Regions from separate parts of the Homo sapiens genome. Here region 1 is linked to region 2. Evidence: fine-mapped expression QTL. A gene starts in region 2. The other region holds a variant in brackets. All regions are shown on one strand. Distances are between the middles of the regions. Region 1 holds the start of LINC00958 (long intergenic non-protein coding RNA 958). Region 2 holds the start of BMAL1 (basic helix-loop-helix ARNT like 1).

Evidence for each region. PIP is the estimated chance that this variant, and not a neighbour inherited with it, causes the effect. A credible set is the group of variants that fine-mapping cannot tell apart.
Region 1: its variant is the best candidate, but not a certain one, in a credible set for the expression of BMAL1 in whole blood (INTERVAL, PIP 0.77).

What each region holds. Positions count from the first base shown.
Region 1 is chr11:12,987,778-12,990,683 of GRCh38, forward strand. LINC00958 (long intergenic non-protein coding RNA 958) reads right to left here and starts at 1,771. Exons shown (of 2, transcript NR_038904.1): 1 at 1,679-1,771. The variant G/A (reference allele first, on the strand shown) is at 1,116.
Region 2 is chr11:13,276,371-13,279,234 of GRCh38, forward strand. It overlaps BMAL1 (basic helix-loop-helix ARNT like 1), which reads left to right and starts at 1,420. Exons shown (of 20, transcript NM_001297719.2): 1 at 1,420-1,553. RefSeq lists silencers at 1,021-1,670, 1,741-1,810, 2,091-2,430.

The sequences.
Region 1 (2,906 bases), 290 kb before region 2:
TAAAACTGGTCGGGCACAGTGGTTCACACTTGTAATCCCAGCACTTTGGGAGACTGAGGTGGGTAGATCACTAGAGATCAGGAGTTCAAGACCAGCCTGGCCAACATAGTGAAACCCCGTCTCTACTAAAAATACAAAAAATTAGCCGGGCGTGGTGGTGTGCGCCTGTAATCTCAGCTCTTGTGATGCTGAGGCAGGAGAATCGCTTGCACCCAGGAGATGGAGGTTGCAGTGAGCCAAGATCGCACTACTGCACTCCAGCCTGGGTGACAAAGTGAGACTCTGTCAATAAATAAATAAAATTCTAAAACAAAGAGAATCCAATAATCAATTATCTCTCTCCCCCTCTCTCTCCATATGTATCATAACTAACAGATTTATTCCAATAATTCTCATCAAAATTTTTCTTTTGAGATGGTGTCACTCTGTTACCCAGGCTAGAGTGCAGTGGTATGAACATAGTTCACTACAGCCTCAACCTCCTGGCCTCAAGAGATCCTCTTGGCTCAGCCTCCCATGTAGCTGGGACCACAGGTGTGCACCATCACACCTGGCTAATTTTAAAAAAGTTTTTATAGAGATGAGGTTTCACTGTATTGCCCAGGCTGGTCTCGAACTCCTTACCTCAAGCAATCCTCCCTCAGCCTCCCAAAGTGCTGGGATTACAGGCATGAGGCACTGCATCTGGCCTAAAATAAACAAACAAACAAACAAACAGTGATTGATTTAGTAAACATTATCTTTTTCTCTGGAAAACTGAGTTACATGGATTTCACAAGGTTACTGACTTTCAATGTATGGCTAAAATTGGTGGTAGATTAATTTATGGACATGCTAGTAACAAAATAGAATTTAATAATCTGTTTCATCCTCTAAGTATTTCTGACATTTTGTTGTTGTTGCTCATTAGTCCCTGGCTACAAATAACCACAAACTCCCTAGTTAAGATGATGTCAGGACTCTCAGACTAGGGAAAAAAGCCACATTCTGGTTGTAAATGAAAATTTAACGGAGAATAAGATATTTGAAAGAGAAAATCATTGTTTTGAGAAAGGAACAAAGAAGCCAGACAAGGTATAAACTTTACCAAATGTTCAAAAAATTCATTTAATATC[G/A]GGCTTTATAATTCATGAAGTTTCTTTTCTTTTGGCTGCCAACTTATCTAATTACAATTCTAGATTGACAGCAAAAATATTTAATATTCTCTGAGGAAATACCCAACTCAGGTGAGACAAGGACAGAGCAATGAAATGGAAGAAAACTGTGAGAAACCAGGGAGACTGTATTAGTCCGTTTTCACACTGCTATAAAGGACTACCTGAGGGCCAGGCATGTTGGCTCACGCCTGTAATCTCAGTACTTTGGGAGGCCGAGGCGGGTGGACCAGCTGAGATCAGGAGTTGGAGACGAGCCTGGCCAACCTGGTGAAATCCCATCTCTACTAAAAATACAAAAATTAGCTGGGCATAGTGTCGGGCGCCTGTAATCCCAGCTACTCGGGAGGCTGAGGCAGGAGAATCACTTGAACTCGGGAGGCGGCGGTTGCACTGAGCCGGGATCACGCCATTGCACTCCAGCCTGGGAAACAGATGAGACTCCGTCTCCAAAAAAAAAAAAAAAAAAAAAGAACTACCCGAGACGGAGTAGTTTATAAAGAAAGGAGGTTTAATTAACTCACCGTTCCGCATGGCTGGGGAGGCCTCAGGAAACTGCAGAGGGTGAGAGGGAAGCAAGCAGTTTCTTCACAATGCAGCAGGAGAGAGAGAGAGAGTGAGGTAGGAAGTGCCACACTTTTAAGCCGTCAGATCTCGTGAGAACTCACTCATCATCACGAGAACAGCATGGGGCAAACCGCACCACGATTGAGTCACCTCCCACCAGGTCCCTCCCTAACATGTGGGGATTATAATTCAAGATAACATTTGGGTAGGGACGCAGAGCCAAACCATATCAGAGACAATCCACGAGGGCCATGAGGTCGGCTCAGCCCTGATGTACTCTGGAAATCCTGGAATCAATGTGCCCATAGAGGGATGTGTGACAGGGAGGAGGGATCCTAGAGGGTCATGATATGACCTGGAGGCAATGAGATCAAATTCCTGGTCCTGCTAAGCCCCCAAATCGTAAGAGTTTACATGCTTTCAGGTATTTCTGGACTGTGCTTTTTAACGTCTCAAAACCTTTTTACATACATCACCTCATTTGAGCCTGATACAGACTAGTGAGCTAGGTGAGGGCTGGTTCTTCTCTATCTAGGTGAGGAAAGTGACAATCGGGAAGAGAAAGGACAAAAACCACTGCATGTTAATGGAAATAAATGACAAGGAGAAACAAAACAAAGGCAAGGACTCCATGGTGATGAAAGAAAGGCACATTGCCCAGGAAGGGAAGTGGAGGCCATGGCCCCACTTCTGCTCCTGACCCCAACCAGGAGACCACCAAGTTGAACCCAAGGGTGTGGCTGAAGATGTGCCTGGTCTTCTAAGATGTTTGCTGTCCAACTGCTGGTGTTGAACCTCCACTCCTCCTAGTTCCTTAATCATGTAGATAAGTCTATTTACATCCTCCACTAATACCAACTTTTACAGTGGAACGGGGTAAAGCCCTAAAAAGTATTTGTTACTGTAATGTACCATATAGTGGTAATTATTATTATAAGAAAGTAACTTGTAAACTGCCAAGTGCTATACAAATGTCCATTATCATTATTATGATGATGATTAGATAATGATCATGTTGGTTTTTCTCCAACCCAAGGAGTGCTCATTCAGTCCCATCTTTTCTTCTTCAATTTCAGTAGCTTCCCTATCCAAAGCCAAACAAATTTTAGTGTTCTTAATACCCTCAGTATGGTAGCTTGTTAATGTCTCTTAAAAGCTCAAATAATTTATGCTTACTTTTTAAAC
Region 2 (2,864 bases):
CGACGGAATTGCTTGACCTCGAAAACAGTCAGCATTCAGACCACAAGCACATATTGGGCACTCCGTGCCTGTCAATGAGCTGGGGATGGGCAATGGTGTTACAGAGATTAAAAAACGCAGTGTCTGTGTTCAAGGAACTTACCAGGCTAGAAGTCTAGAGTCACGGGGGCCAGTCTGGGTAACAGAATTAGGCCAATTTATTTAATTCCATTTGTTCATGTATCCAGCCAACAGATATTTATGGTGCACTTGTTGGGTGCCAGCCCCGCCCCCACCACTCCACCCTACCCCAGCAGGCGCTAAAGGAGAGCTGACATGATGGATAACGAAAAAGAAGACGCTGTCCTTCTATTCAGGGAGTTTAACATCTGGAAGAGCCGGGAGTTCTTTGTGCTAAAGGCCCTCTACAAAGTGCCTGAGATGCAAAAATAAGTCACTTTCTCTGTCCTCTCAGCAACCGAGTCGCATGTCGTTATCAAATTTTTATTTTCTGTAACTGTTTCCTTCCGTCTTGCTCCGTAGACAGCTTTTTGCAGCAGAGAGCGCTGCCGCGGGGCTGGTGTCTACTCTTCAGTAAGTGGTCAAAACCTGGCTACTGGAAGGAAATGCAATGGAATCGCTCCGCGCTCGAGTATTCTCTTTGGAACTACGGGAATGACAGCTCCAGTGGGACACTTGGAGGTCATGATGAACGCAAAGAACGTGAGAACACTTGCAGTCCTCGGGGTGGAAATGCCTTCTAGAAATACTAAGTATCCGTTCTCTCGTTGAGACTTTGGCAAACCAGGGATTTTAGGAAGGGTCTGGCACTCAACGTTCCTAAAATTGGTTTCCTAGATGGAGCCGGAGGGAGAGAGGGAGTCAGGAACTGCTGCTTTTCGTCGGAATGCCCGGAGGGGAGAAGAAGAAGGAGGAGGGGTGAGGGCGGGCGGCCAAACGCCAGCCGGCAGGGGACCCAGAGAAGAGGGACATCCCGGGCGACCCCGAGGAGCGCGGCTTGGGCACCGCAGTGGCCGCGGCTAGTGGGAGACCTGAGGGGAAAGGGAGAGGGCAGGGGCGAGGAACCCAGGGAGCGCGCGCGGATTGGTCCTCTCCTCGGGGCGTGCGCTCCTGTGCGCCAAATGATTGGTGGCAGGAAAGTAGCAGGTAAACCGGCTCCCGCCGCCTCGCCATTGGTCAGCGGCCTCTCTAGCCGCCACACAACTGGCCAGCGGGCTGCCGAGCCGCGCGCGGATTGGCTGGGGGCGGCCGCCGGGACCGGCTCCCTTCGGGCGTTCGGATTGGCTGGCGGGAAGAGGCAGGTATCCGGGCGCTGCGGCTCCTCCATTGGTGGGCGGGGAAGGGGGGTTGGGCACAGCGATTGGTGGGCGGGGGGCCGGGCCTGGGCCGGCGGGGAGCGGATTGGTCGGAAAGTAGGTTAGTGGTGCGACATTTAGGGAAGGCAGAAAGTAGGTCAGGGACGGAGGTGCCTGTTTACCCGCGCCGGACTCACCGCCGCCGCCGCCGCGGGATCCGAGTGCGGGCGCGGGCGCGGGCGCTCCCGGCGAGCCACGGTGAGTGTCAGGCCGGCGGCGGCCAGCGACGCGATCCCGCGCACCCCGTCGGGGGCCGTTAGCACCCTCGCGGGCGCTGCGCCCCTGCCGCCGCCCCGGGGGCAACCCGGCCGCCGAAGAACCCTGCCCGACGTGCCCGCTGCCGGCCTTAAAGGGCCCGTGACCGCTCCCTGCCCCCACCCGGGCCGTGGGGAGGCTGCGCCCCTTAAAGGCGCCGCGCCCGTCCGCCCCCATCCTCCTCGCGGGGGCTGCCGCTGCGGGCTAGGGCAGGCAGAGGTGCTGCAGGAGCCCTTAAAGGGGCCGGGAAAGTGTTCGCTGGAGTACCCACCGCCCTTCCGCGGGCATCGCTACCTGGCGGGGGGAGGGGGCAGCTAGCTGCCTCTTAAAGGGATAGCTCTGCCCTTGGGGGCAGTGACTCGGCCGAAGAGGACTCCTAGATGTGTCCCCGGGAGCTTCGGGGATCCCCGAGGGGACCATGCCTGGTGGCTGCCCCTCAAGGGCGTTGGGCGAACGGTGCCGCGTCTGCCCTTCCTCCCCGCTTCACTTCCCTTTCGGGAGCCCGCGAGGCTGGGTGGGGGCGGGGAGGGCGTCTCCGTCGGGCTTGGGGAGTCCAAGTCCGCCCGCCCCTTCGGCCCTGTAGCCAGGGCTGGCGCTGCACCCGGGAATCCCCGGCCGGCACGGGGCCGACCCCAGCCTGCGAACTTTCGTGGGGCCTGTGCCGTCCAGGTCCTGGGCGGCCCTCAAGGATGCCCCGTGGGTCTGCGGGCAGGTGCGCGTCGGCCTGGGGATGTCGCCCGGAGCCCGGGTGCGGGCCGGCCTTGGAGTCCCAGAGCTCCGCGGAGGGCGCAGCGAGCCTGGCTCCAGCTCCGGGTTTGACAGATGTCAGGGAAGAAAAGGTTCCCGCTCGGCTATTGCCGGGCGTTGACATCCCAGAGAGCTTCCCGTTTGCTTGGAAGAAGACGAGGAAGGTAGAGGTGAACGTCGACCTTGTGGGGCGCATGTTAGCCTCCCCGAGGGGTCGCGAGAGCCGGCAGCGGGGTGAGCTCAGGTGCCCGCCGGCAGGAGCTGGGGAGGGAAGGGGAGTGCTGGACACCGGCGCCTGCTGTCAAGTTCTCGCCGGCCGGTGAGAGACCCGCTGCCGCCGCGCACCCCGCACCTCCTGACCCCTCTCCCCTCTCCGCCTCGGCCCCTTCCCGGTCACCTAGCGTTGTTTTGGCGCTTTGGCGCTTGCGGTCTCTTCCTTCTTCCACCGCTACTCCTCAGCGAGGAATTATTAGCCAAGTTTTCTCACCCAGCTTCCAAAAATCAGAT